Regions from separate parts of the Homo sapiens genome. Here all the other regions are linked to region 3. Evidence: fine-mapped expression QTL. A gene starts in region 3. Each other region holds a variant in brackets. All regions are shown on one strand. Distances are between the middles of the regions.

What was found. PIP is the estimated chance that this variant, and not a neighbour inherited with it, causes the effect. A credible set is the group of variants that fine-mapping cannot tell apart.
Region 1: its variant is the best candidate, but not a certain one, in a credible set for the expression of SLC7A7 in whole blood (INTERVAL, PIP 0.52).
Region 2: its variant is the best candidate, but not a certain one, in a credible set for the expression of SLC7A7 in whole blood (TOPMed, PIP 0.66).

What each region holds. Positions count from the first base shown.
Region 1 is chr14:22,736,950-22,741,170 of GRCh38, reverse strand. All of the region lies in intron 1 of OXA1L-DT (OXA1L divergent transcript), which reads left to right. Among named protein-coding and RNA genes, the nearest start is that of OXA1L-DT, 28 kb to the left of the region's middle. RefSeq lists an enhancer at 3,744-3,913. The variant G/A (reference allele first, on the strand shown) is at 2,416.
Region 2 is chr14:22,771,654-22,775,688 of GRCh38, reverse strand. It overlaps OXA1L (OXA1L mitochondrial inner membrane insertase), which reads right to left. Exons shown (of 10, transcript NM_005015.5): 10 at 2,647-4,035. SLC7A7 (solute carrier family 7 member 7) reads left to right here. Exons shown (of 10, transcript NM_003982.4): 7 at 149-245; 8 at 1,186-1,335; 9 at 1,573-1,756; 10 at 1,973-2,467. The coding sequence ends at 2,079. Among named protein-coding and RNA genes, the nearest start is that of OXA1L, 7.0 kb to the right of the region's middle. The variant A/G (reference allele first, on the strand shown) is at 2,213.
Region 3 is chr14:22,813,297-22,817,517 of GRCh38, reverse strand. SLC7A7 (solute carrier family 7 member 7) reads left to right here and starts at 2,083. Exons shown (of 10, transcript NM_003982.4): 1 at 2,083-2,198; 2 at 4,078-4,221. The coding sequence starts at 4,120. RefSeq lists enhancers at 1,994-2,093, 2,282-2,788 and silencers at 4,096-4,155, 4,176-4,221.

The sequences.
Region 1 (4,221 bases), 76 kb after region 3:
GTAATCCCAGCACTTTGGGAGGCTGAGGCGGGCGGATCACGAGGTCAGGAGATCAAGACTATCCTGGCTAACACGGTGAAACCCCGTCTCTGCTAAAATACAAAAAATTAGCCGGGCGTGGTGGCGGGCACCTGTAGTCCCAGCTACTTGGGAGGCTGAGGCAGGAGAATGGCGTGAACCCGGGAGGCGGAGCTTGCAGTGAGCCAAGATCGCACCACTGCACTCTAGCCTGGGCGACAGAGCGAGACTCCATCTCAAAAAAAAAAAAAAGAATTAATGTTCAATGTATTGATTTGTTTGATATAGTCATTACTAGCAGTCTCTAAAACATAGTTATCTGAATTTCTAACAGTGGGTACAATTGCCCAGGCCTTGTATATCTGGCTGTGTAAGACAGTGGCTAACAGTGAGGATTGTCTCAGACAGTCAAGGTTTGCATCCTGATGACTAAGGATATACTTACCAGATATGTGTCATTAGGCACAACATTTTCCTCACCTGTGAAATCTGTAAGTATCACATCAGGCTGTTTTGAGGTTTAAGTGAGATAACACAAAGTTTTTTTGTTTATGTAGGTCATAGTTTTATTATTACTAATAATATTGGCATTATTTTTCTGAAACAAATATACATCAGATAAAATGAGTAACTTTGTCAATGTCACTAGGACCAATATTTTCATCATAAGTGATTATAGTCTTAGGGAAATTGCCTAAAAGTGAAATGGCTGGGTCAGGAGGTCTGCACATTTTAAGGCTTTTTTTTCCCATTCCTAGACTGCGCTCCTGAGGATCACACTAGCTGTTGGAGAGCATCAGTTTTCTGAATTCTCTACAACATAGTTATTACTATTTTGCCAGTTTTATGTGTTGAGATGAACGTTGTTCTTATTTTAAAAAAACAGGAACTGAGGCTGAAGAAGGCTATGAATGATAGAGTGGACAGCAGTGCATGAGGACAGCTGGGCCAACTCTTCAATATCACACCTTCATTACTCATTCTCACTAGAAGGCCATATTCCTCCCAAGTAAAATGGGTGTCAGTTTACCTAGATTATATGTTAATTTGTTCCTTTTTATGGCTGAGGAGCATTCCATAGTATGGGTCTTCCACCATACGCTTATCTATTCACTAGTTGATGGACATGTGGGCTGTTTCTAGTTTTTGGCTATCATTAATAAAGCTGCATACAAGTCTTTGAGTAGATCTCTATTTTCATTTTCTTTGGGTACACATCTAAAAAGGGATTTGATGGTTTGTATGGTAAGTATATGTTAAACTTTATAAGAGAAGGTTAGAGTATTTTCTAAAGTGATTATATCATTTTGCACTCCCACTAGCAATGTATGAGAGTTCCAGTCACACATAGACTCTGAGATGGAGCAAAGACCCCTCTTGGGGGCCTGCCAGGGATGACCTTCCCCACAAAGCATGGAAATAAAGAAAAATCTTGAATTCCTTCAAGGGAAATTCCAGGCACCTAGCTAGCCTTGAGAAGTAAATGAACAACTTGATAAGCAAGAAGGGAATGGTAGCTTAAAACAATAGCCAAGGAAGTTGAAGTCACAGGATGTTTGGTTTCCTTTAGAAACTGAAGATAACATCTTAACATATATCCCTGAGTTGTTTTTCAGAAACCCAGACCTCCATCAAATGGCTCCTCTGGCACGCAGACCTCAGATAAGGGGGAAACTGAGGAATGAATGCTGGCCACCATTCTTTGTTATAAATTTCTTCCTGAAGGGTGTGGAGGGAGCATGCCCATAAACCAGAGCTAACATTCTTTTCTGCTGATCCTAAATTTTTTACAAAGTTTTCCCTCCTTAACCAATTGCAAATCAGAAAAATCTTTGAATTCACCTGTGGCCTGTGAGCCCCGATTTGAGATGTCCTGTATGGCCTCCATGTATTGATTTATGATTTTTTTTTTTGAGACAGAGTCTCACTCTGTCACCCAGGCTGGAGTGCAGTGGCACAATCTTGGCTCACTGCAACCTCTGCCTCCCTGGTTCAAGTGATTCTCCTGCCTCAGCCTTCCAAATAGCTGGGGATTACAGGCGCCTGCCACCACACCTGGCTAATTTTTGTACTTTTAGTAGAGATGGGGTTTTTTCACGTTGGCCAGGGTGGTCTTGAACTCCTGACCTCAGGTGATCTACCTGCCTCGGCATTCCAAAGTGCTGGGATTACAAGTGTGAGCCACAGCACCTGGCCCAATTTATGATTTTTGCCCATAACCGCTGTTTCCTTGCCTTAAAAAACCATTAACTGTAAGCCACTGGGGAGGTTGGGTCTTAAGTGTGAGCTGCCTGATTCTCCTTGTTGGGTGCCCTGCAAATAAATGCCCTCCTTTCTCCCACTGCAAAAAACTTGGTGTGGATGTTTGACTTTACTGTGCTGGGTGAGCGAACCCAA[G/A]TTCAGTTTGATAACTCTTTATAGGATCTCTCACATACATAGACTCTACTTTTCCTACCATTAATGGATTTTGAAAGGGCCTTTTTTTTTTTTTTTTTTTTTTTACCGTGAAACTCCAGAAAAAGTTTTGTAATTGCCCAACAGGTTTCTCCTGCCTACTATACAGACAAAACCAATTCACAGAGACCATGGCGTTGCAGTAAAGAAAGAGTTTAATTAAAACTTGGCTAGGCATGTGGAAAACAGAATTATTACTGAAATCAGCCTCCCTGAGAACTCAGAGGCTAGGGTTTTTGTAGATAATTTGGTGAGCAGGGGCTAAGGAGTGGGTGCTGCTGACTGGTTGGGGATAAAATCATAGGAATGCAGAAAACAATCCTTGTGTGCTGAATCTACCTCTGGGTCAGGGCTGCAGGATCAGTTGAGTCATGAGATAGAATACAAAAGTCTGGAAAACATCTTAAAAGACCAATCTTAGGTCCTAGCATCACTATTACATTGTAATTTTTTTTTTTTTCAGATGGAGTTTCACTCTTGTTGCCCAGGCTGGAGTGCAGTCATGCGATCTCAGCTCACTGCAACCTCCACCTCCCGGGTTCAAGCGATTCCCCTGCCTCAGCCTTCCGAGTAGCTGGGATTACAAGCATGTGCCACCACACCCGGCTAATTTTGTATTTTTAGTAGAGATGGGGTTTCTCCATGTTGGTCAGGCTAGTGTGGAACTCCCAACCTCAGGTGATTTGCCTGCCTTGGCCTCCCAAAGTGCTGGGATTACAGGCGTGAGCCACTGCGCCTGGCCTTTTTTTTTCTTTTGAGACAGAGTCTCACTCTGTTGCCAGGCTGGAGTGCAGTGGCAAGATCTCCGCTCACTGCAACCTCTGCCTCTTGGGTTCAAGCGATTCCCCTGCCTCAGCCTCCAGAGTAGCTGGGACGATAGGCACACACCATCACACCCAGCTAATTTTTGTATTTTTAGTAGAGACGGGGTTTCACCATGTTGGCCAGGATGGTCTCGATCTCTTGACCTCATGATCCTCCCACCTCAGCCTCCCAAAGTGTTGGGATTACAGGCGTGAGCCACCACCTATATTGTCCGGCCTATATTGTATGGTTATGGGGCAGTTGGGGAAATCACAAATATTGTGACCTCTGGCAACATGACTCCTGAGCAGTAAGTGGTTATAGAAACTATGTTTACATCCTTAGCAGAATTCAGGCTCCTCCCATAATCCTAATCTCATGGCCTATCATTCATTTTTAGTCCCTGAGCAAGGAAGGAGGGGGTTAGTGTTAGGTAAGGATTATTATCATTCTTGCCTGCAAGTTAAACTATAAATTGAATTCCTCCCATGGTTAGTTTGGCCACACCCAGGCATGAGTGAGGACAGTCAGCCTGTGAGGCTTAGAAGCAAGATGGAGTCAGTCATGGAGGCAGTCATGGAGGCCTGGAGGCATGATTAGAAGCAGTCATGGAGGCAGTCATGACAGCCATTTCTCCCACTGTCATAATCCTTGCAGAGGCAGTTTCAGTTTCAGAATCTGTTTCAGTTACTCATTCAAAGAGTTAGTATAACAGATTCCACTGCTAGAAAACTGCTGGGTGTGGTGTCAGAGCCCTGGCATCAGCATTGGGCAGTGATGGACTTGCAGGTTGGTAAGAAGAATCTACCGACTATAGTATAGGTTTGAAAAAGGAAAGTTTTGGGCCGGGTACGGTGGCTCATGCCTGTAATCCCAGCACTTTGGGAGGCTGAGGTGGGTGGATCACCTGAGGTCAGGAGTTCAAGACTGGCCTGGCCAACATAG
Region 2 (4,035 bases), 42 kb after region 3:
GTCATTAATCTTAATACTGAGCTCCAGTCCATATTATCCAAATACTTTTGAAGGAAGGGATGGCAGAGAGGGAGGGCCATGTGGCAGGTGAACCAGGCTGCACCGTGTCCACCAATTTTCTCAGCTTCTCCTATCTTACCTAACATAGGCTTTTCTTTGTGGGCTCAAGAGAAGGCCATCTCCCTGATGCCATCTGCATGATCCATGTTGAGCGGTTCACACCAGTGCCTTCTCTGCTCTTCAATGTAAGTGAACTCAAGGATGAGACTGAAAGCCAGATTGCGGGGGAAACTTTAGTAACAGCAGAAGCGACTGTTCTAGCTTCCTGAAAGCTCTGAAAGATTCCAATAGAAAAACTATTGGTGGATCAGAATGTTCACCACGGGCAAGGCACTATGCTAACCGCTACAGGGGAAATCCAAATGCTCTAAGGAATGGTACACCTCTGCTCTAAGATAAGGCAAAAAGTACATGGAATACACTGTAATGATTGATTGCCATGACAGATAGTGAGTGATACGGTGTTTAAGAGAAGAAACGATCACTTCCATGGGAGTAGAGGGTGAAGAATTACATCTAGAAGTGTGTGTGTGTGTCTTAAAATCCACCAAAGTGTTCTCAGAAAAAAAAAGTGCATCTTGATGGCTAGGGTTGCAAATGGTAGAGATGGGCTTTAGGTAGGAGAAATAGCATCAGAAAATCCTGTGATAAAGCAGTATGGGTTTTAATACAGGTTGAGTATCCCTAATCTGAATATCCAAAATCTGAAATGCTCTAAAAATCTGAAACTTTTTGAGTGCTGACTTGACACTCAAAGGAAATGCTCATTGGAGCATTTTGGATTTTCAGAACAGGGATACTCAACATGTAGGAGGAGATAAGAGCGGGTTATTGTAGGTTGGAGCCATTATGGAAAGGGTCCTATGCAAGACTTTTGAGGGATTGTTTCGAGCTTGCTTTATACAGGGTTAACTTGAAGAATGGGTTGAAAAGCCAGTTGAGACTACTGACTTATAAGAGAGGGGATAAGGTACTGAAACTAGGGTGTTAAAGGGATTAAAACCAGAAGAGGACCAGGAGACTTTGAGGATTGACAGGGGATGGATTTCTGGGGTATAAAGGGAGTGAAAAGCCTTTGGATTAACAAAGGCCCTGAGAAGAGCTGACTTAGGCTCACGCTTACAGGGTATCATGGCATTGATCTACTTGTGCGTGGAAGACATCTTCCAGCTCATTAACTACTACAGCTTCAGCTACTGGTTCTTTGTGGGGCTTTCTATTGTGGGTCAGCTTTATCTGCGCTGGAAGGAGCCTGATCGACCTCGTCCCCTCAAGGTAAGGCAACTCCATCCTACCTCTGCTCCACCTGAAACAGCTGGAGTTGTTGCTACAAGGGACTATGACAAAGCACTTTATTTAGAAACCTTTGCCTGGGACTTGGTCGTTAGTAATGTGTTGAAATTAAAGGTATGGAAAGAAGGCTCAGTGCGCTAATCCTTATGGGAGGTGGGGTTATTTTAGCTGTTAAGAATCCTGAGTTGTCCACTCCAGTTATGTTTCCTGTGCCCTTAGCTCAGCGTTTTCTTCCCGATTGTCTTCTGCCTCTGCACCATCTTCCTGGTGGCTGTTCCACTTTACAGTGATACTATCAACTCCCTCATCGGCATTGCCATTGCCCTCTCAGGCCTGCCCTTTTACTTCCTCATCATCAGAGTGCCAGAACATAAGCGACCGCTTTACCTCCGAAGGATCGTGGGTAAGCCGTGCATCCTTAAGTCCGCTCAGCTATTGCAGAGCTTGGTTTTTGCCTTTTTCTGTAAATCCAGCCTCCAAAGACATCTTTGCCTTAGCCCCTTCTTATGAACCCTTCGGCTTAGTGGAATCACTCCCCTCACACTGAGTTCCATTCAGTGACACTTGAACTCAGCCCAGCTGACCTCTTCTCAATTCCAACTCAAAGTTCTCTTTGTAGGGTCTGCCACAAGGTACCTCCAGGTCCTGTGTATGTCAGTTGCTGCAGAAATGGATTTGGAAGATGGAGGAGAGATGCCCAAGCAACGGGATCCCAAATCTAACTAAACACCATCTGGAATCCTGATGTGGAAAGCAGGGGTTTCTGGTCTACTGGCTAGAGCTAAGGAAGTTGAAAAGGAAAGCTCACTTCTTTGGAGGCACCTGTCCAGAAGCCTGGCCTAGGCAGCTTCAACCTTTG[A/G]ACTTACTTTTTGAAATGAAAAGTAATTTATTTGTTTTGCTACATACTGTTCCAGACTTTTAAAGGGGACAATGAAGGTGACTGTGGGGAGGAGCATGTCAGGTTTGGGCTTGGTTGTTTTAGAAGCACCTGGGTGTGCCTACCTACTCCTCTTTTCTTTTAAAAGGGCCCACAATGCTCCAATTTCCTGTCTCCTTTAGAGAGACATGAAACTATCACAGGTGCTGGATGACAATAAAAGTTTATGTTCCTAAAGTCTGAGTGGCTTCATTTTATATAGTATCTATCTCTAGGACAGCTCCCATTAGCCTAGAAACACAAAGACTAAAATCAATCTTATGCTTGAAAGTATATCCATCTTTTCTCTCTCAAGCTAGCTGCTGAAGGCTGATAAACCAGGCTCTACACAAAGGCAGACAACAGAACACTTAAACTGCTCTAGTCAAATGTTGGATTGTTACATAAAAATGACATGAACTTCCTTTTTGAGACAGGATCTTGCTCTGTAGCCAAGGCTGGAGTATAGCAGCATGATCTTGGATCACTGCAGCCTCAACCTCCTGGGCTTAAGCTATCCTCCCACCTCAGCCTCCCAGGTAGCTGGGACTATGGACAAGCACCACCATGCTCAGCTAACTTTTTAGCAGAGACAAGGTCTCGCCATGTTGCCCAGGCTGGTCTCAAATTCCTGGACTCAAGTGATCTACCCACCTCAGCCTCCCAAAGTGCTGAGATTATAGGTGTGAGCCACTTTGCCCAGCCTGGAACTTTCATTCTTAATTATCACTAAGAATTTGCACACATCTACTTCTTGAAATTTTTAAAGTAATCTTGGGATCAAGAAGTGCGGTTACTATATTTAGATACAATCTCAACATTCAACTTATCAGCCACACCTCTAGACTGCAATCCAAATGTGCATAGAACAACACATGCATGGGTTGGAAGTTTAAACTGTTTTTTTTTTTTTTTTTTTTTTTTTTTTTTTGAGAAGGAGTCTCACTCTCTTGCCCAGGCTGGAGTGCAGTGGCGCAATCTCGGCTCACTGCAAGCTCTGCCTCCTGGGTTCACGCCATTCTCCTGCCTCAGCCTCCCAAGTAGCTGGGAATACAGGCACCCGCCGCCATGCCCGGCTAATTTTTTTTTTTTTTTTTTTAGTAGAGACGGGGTTTCACCATGTTGGCCAGGATGGTCTCGATCTGCTGACTTCGTGATCCGCCCGCCTTGGCCTCCCAAAAGTGCTGGGATTACTGGCGTGAGCCACTGCGCCTGGGTGGAAGTTTAAACCCTTAATGCCAGGTTAAAACATTATATTTTCCAAGGCCATGGGCCAGCAAAAGCAATCATGACTCACTCTATTCTTCAGTTTTCTTTTTTTTTTGAGACAGTCTCCCTCTATTGCCCAGGCTGGAGTGCGGTGGTGCGATCTTGGCTCACTGCAACCTCCGCCTCTCGGATTCAAGCAATTCTCCTGCCTCAGCCTCCCGAGTAGCTGGGACTACAGGTGTGCACCACCACGTGTGGCTATTTTTGTAAAACAGCAGAGATGGCGTTTCCCCATGTTGGCCAGGCTGGTCTCAAACTCCTGATCTCAGGTGATCCACCCACCTCGGCCTCCCAAAATGCTGGGTATTCTTCAGTTTTCTGAAGTGCACACTGATTTCCCTGTTCAATAAGTATCAGGAAGCAGCATGTAGTACAGAGGTTTACTAACTCTGTGAATGGGAAGATCACTTGGCTACCCAGTGCTCTCTTATAAACATAAGTACAAGAGTGTTTCATGAAATCCGTTTTTAAAATGAACATCTCTGTGTGCCACAGTT
Region 3 (4,221 bases):
AACAAAAAAGATTAGCTGGGCGTGGTGGTGTGCACCTGTAATCCCAGCTACTCGGGAGGCTGAGGCAGGAGAATTGCTTGAACCCAGTAGGTGGAGGTTGCAGTGAGCCGAGATTGCACCACTGCACTCCAGCCTGGGCGACAGAGTAAGTGTCTGTCTCAAAATAAATAAAATAAAATAAAATAAAATAAAATAAAAATACCGAAATAAAAACACAAAAATTAGCCAGGTGTAATCCTAGTTACTCAGGAGGCTGATGCATGAGAATTGCTTGAACCAGGAGGTGGTGGAGGTTGCAGTGAGTCAAGATCGTGCCACTGCACTCCAGCCTGGGGGACAGAGTGAGACTCTGTCTCAAAAAAAGAAAATAAATAAAAAAAAAAAAAAATAAAAGGAAGGCCTAGAGACTAAGGCAGGCCAGGGGGATGGGGAGATGGAGAGATAGTATACTTGTGTGATTAAGAGTATATGAGCTCTGGAGGTTCCATGAGATAATGTGCTTAAGTCCTTAGCAGTGTGTCTGGCCCAGTAAGTGCTCAATAAGTGATAGCAATTATTATTACAGGAGCATTTTGGAGAAAAGGAGAGTCTCCTCCAGAAGGATTTCAGATCATTGTGAGCCTGTCTTGGGAGAAGCATGATCTCTGGGAACGCTCACACCAGAATCCTCCTCCTAGATTAAATTAAAAGTTTAAAGAGCTAGAATGGGAGGATGTATGGTAGAGATGTCTCCCAGAGATATTTAGATCTCTATTCTCTGGTTGTAGAATAACCAAAGAGGGTTAGAACAGATAGGAGAAGAAACAGACAGTTGGATTTCAGAATGGATAGGGTCTATTTCTGTTGGTAAAAGAGACTCAGAATACCAGATTTAAAGTAAATAATAAAGATAGCATAAACTATGTGATTTCCAAAAAGTGCTCAGCTTCCTCTGCCTGTTCTGGGCCTGTCTGTCCAACAGAATTCAGTGAAATCTGATTTCCTCATATTCTTTTTTAATTTTTTTTTTTTGAGATGGAGTCTTGCTGTGTTGCCCAGGCTGGAGTGCAGTGGCCTAATGTGGGTTCACTGCAAGCTCCGCCTCCCGGGTTCATGCCATTCTCCTCATTCTCCTGCCTCAGCCTCCCGAATAGCTGGGACTACAGGTGCCCGCCACCACGCCCGGCTAATTTTTATTTTTTTGTGTTTTTAGTAGAGACGGGGTTTCACCGTGTTAGCCAGGATGGTCTTGATCTCCTGACCTTGTGATCCGCCTGCCTCAGCCTCCCAAAGTGCTGGGATTACAGGCGTGAGCCACCGCGTCTGGCCTGATTTCCTCATATTTTTTAGGAAAGTGGAGTCAACTTATATTTGAGGAAGGCGTTTATAGGAATTTATGCTTATCCCAGAGATCTTGGTATGTTTTGTCAAGAATGAAAAGGCACGTGGGTCTGGTGGGGATGCAGTCAGATATTTGATCTCTTGACTGTGTTTCTTTTGAAGTAGTCTGAGGCTCAGACTTTGGGGCAGTGGCCCAGGCTTGGAGGCAACCCCCCAGTCTCTCTTTGCATGGGGAAGTGTGCAGAGTTCTCTTAGAACACCCAGTCACATGGTGTAGAGACTGCTCTTACACTTCCTGTAATCTCAGCATGGGAACAAGCCTTTGTGTCACACTGTGCAACCTTCCTCCCTTTCTTAAATGCTTGGGGTGAGAGAGAAGAGAGGCTAGGGTGGGGCATGGAGGACACAGAGAGAGAGAGTGCTGTGTATTCCTTCCCCGCTACTGTCCTGTCCTCAGCTAACTTGCTCTGGGACAGCTTCCCCAGGGCTACAGATACTGCACTCAGCTGACTGTCCTTTCTTCTGGGCCCCTGGTCCCAGAGCAGAGCTGACAAAGGAGATTCCTGAGAGAGCACCTTCTTATCACAGAAAGTGCTGAGCCAAGAGCTCCTAGCTGCCCCTTTTGCAGATGTGAAGGGCCAGTGAACCTTGGACCCAGATGGTTGCTTAATACTCCTTTCCCCCTCCCTCACTCCTTCCTTTGCGGGCTGCCTCACCTCCTCCACCCTTCTTGCTTAAATCCATAGGCATTTGTCTGGCCTTCCCTTTTACTGCTGGCTGGGAAGGAGGAGCATCAGACCACAGATCCTGGAAGGCACTTCTCTCCCTGACTGCTGCTCACACTGCCGTGAGAACCTGCTTATATCCAGGACCAAGGAGTGAGTGTGCGTTCCACCCTCTTCTCATCTCCACTTACCTTGCTAACCCTCCTCTTTGCTGCTGTGCAGTGTCTAATCGCTTCTTCTCCCGAGTGCCTCTCACCCTAACATCTCTCCATTGCTTGACTAGCCTCTCCCATTTTCCTCTCAGCTGTCTCCTGTTCGGTGTTTTCCAGCATGTGCTGCCTGGCTGCAGCTGTCTCCCTGCCTTGGCTCGGGGTGATATCTCTCCAGCAGCAACTCTGGGGTAGGGAGTGGCCATCAGCTGCCTCCAATCATCCCTAGGTTTTATGGTACATTGGATCGCCCTTCTCTCATTCATACTTTTTTGGGTGATTCAACGATGCTGATGTGAGGGATCGATAGCAGGAGGCTTAGAATACCAGAGAATGGGAAAGGAAAAGCAAGGAAAAGATAATAGCCTGTCTTCTTTCAGGGTGAAGTGGGTCTACTTGGGCTTTGCCAGGGCTGAAGACTCCAGCTAAGGGTTAAGGGATGCTCTTTGGGCAGGAGGATGGTTGTGGGTTTCCAGCAGGTTTCTGAAGCCTTTAGTTTTGGCAGACGTAGAGTCCTTGGGGAAAAGAGCAGTGTCATGAGACGCTCCCACAGATTAGCTGCTGGTAGGGTCAGTTCCTAATGTTGTACCTCAGCACAGGTGATCCCTGAAGCTGAAATTGGAGGGAAGACGGGTTTTGGATAAGGCTGAAAACTCGGGGTCAAGCCATTATAGTTATTTTCTGGGAGCCGCCACACTGCCCCCATGCCTGTCTTGTATTATAGCAGGCTCAGAGAGAACCAACATTTAGTGTTTTGTTTTTGATTTTGTTTTTTTTTTGAGACAGAGTTTTGCTCTTGTTGCCCAGGCTGGAGTGCAATGGCCCAGTCTTAGCTTACCGCAACCTCTGCCTCCCGGGCTCAAGTGATTCTCCTGCCTCAGCCTCCCAAGCAGCTGGGATTACAGGCATGTGCCACCACGCATGGCTAATTTTTGTATTTTTAGTAGAGACTGGGTTTCTAAATGTTGGTCAGGCTGGTCTCGAACTCCCGACTTTAGGTGATCTGCCCGCCTTGGCCTCCCAAAGTGCTGGGTTTACAGATGTGAGCCACAGCGCCCGGCCCAAGATTTAGTTCTCTATTTGGTGAGTCGGGTGGGCAGCAATGTCCTAATGATGAGAGACAGATCCTTTCTCTCTGGCGAATGAGTGCCTTCTCTTAAAAATTCAAGTTGGAGGCTGGGCAAGGTGGCTCACGCCTGTAATCCCAGCACTTTGGGAGGCCGAGGCGGGCGGATAACCTGAGGTCGGGAGTTTGAGACCATCCTGACCAACATGGAGAAACCCCATCTCTACTAAAAATACAAAATTAGCTGGGTGTGGTGGTGCATGCCTATAATCCCAGCTACTTGGGAGGCTGAGGCAGGAGAATCACTTGAACCCGGGAGGCGGAGGTTGCAGTGAGCTGAGATCGCGCCATTGCACTCCAGCCTGGGCAACAAGAGCAAAACTCCATCTCAAAAAAAAAAAAAAAAAATTAGCCACGCGTGGTGGCAGGTGCCTGTAATCCCAGCTACTTGGGAGGCTGAGGCAAGAGAAGCGCTTGAACCCGGGAGGCTGAGGTTGCAGTGAGCCGAGCCGAGATTGCACCACTGCACTCCAGCCTGGGCTACAGAGCGAGACTCTGTCAATAAATAAATAAATACATAGATAGATAGACAAATATTCAAGTTGGGGTTGTTTTGATGAGTGAGCTGGAGAAAAGGTTATTTGGAGGTCTCCGCATTGGTTGGTGAGCTGCCCGTATTACCCTGTGTTGGAGGCGGGTAGAGGTTCTATGTAATTGCCAACCACCTAATCTATAGCATCATCTTTCTTCCTTAAAGGGCAATGCCAGGAAGCTGGTGAAGGGTTTCCTCTCCTCCACCATGGTTGACAGCACTGAGTATGAAGTGGCCTCCCAGCCTGAGGTGGAAACCTCCCCTTTGGGTGATGGGGCCAGCCCAGGGCCGGAGCAGGTGAAGCTGAAG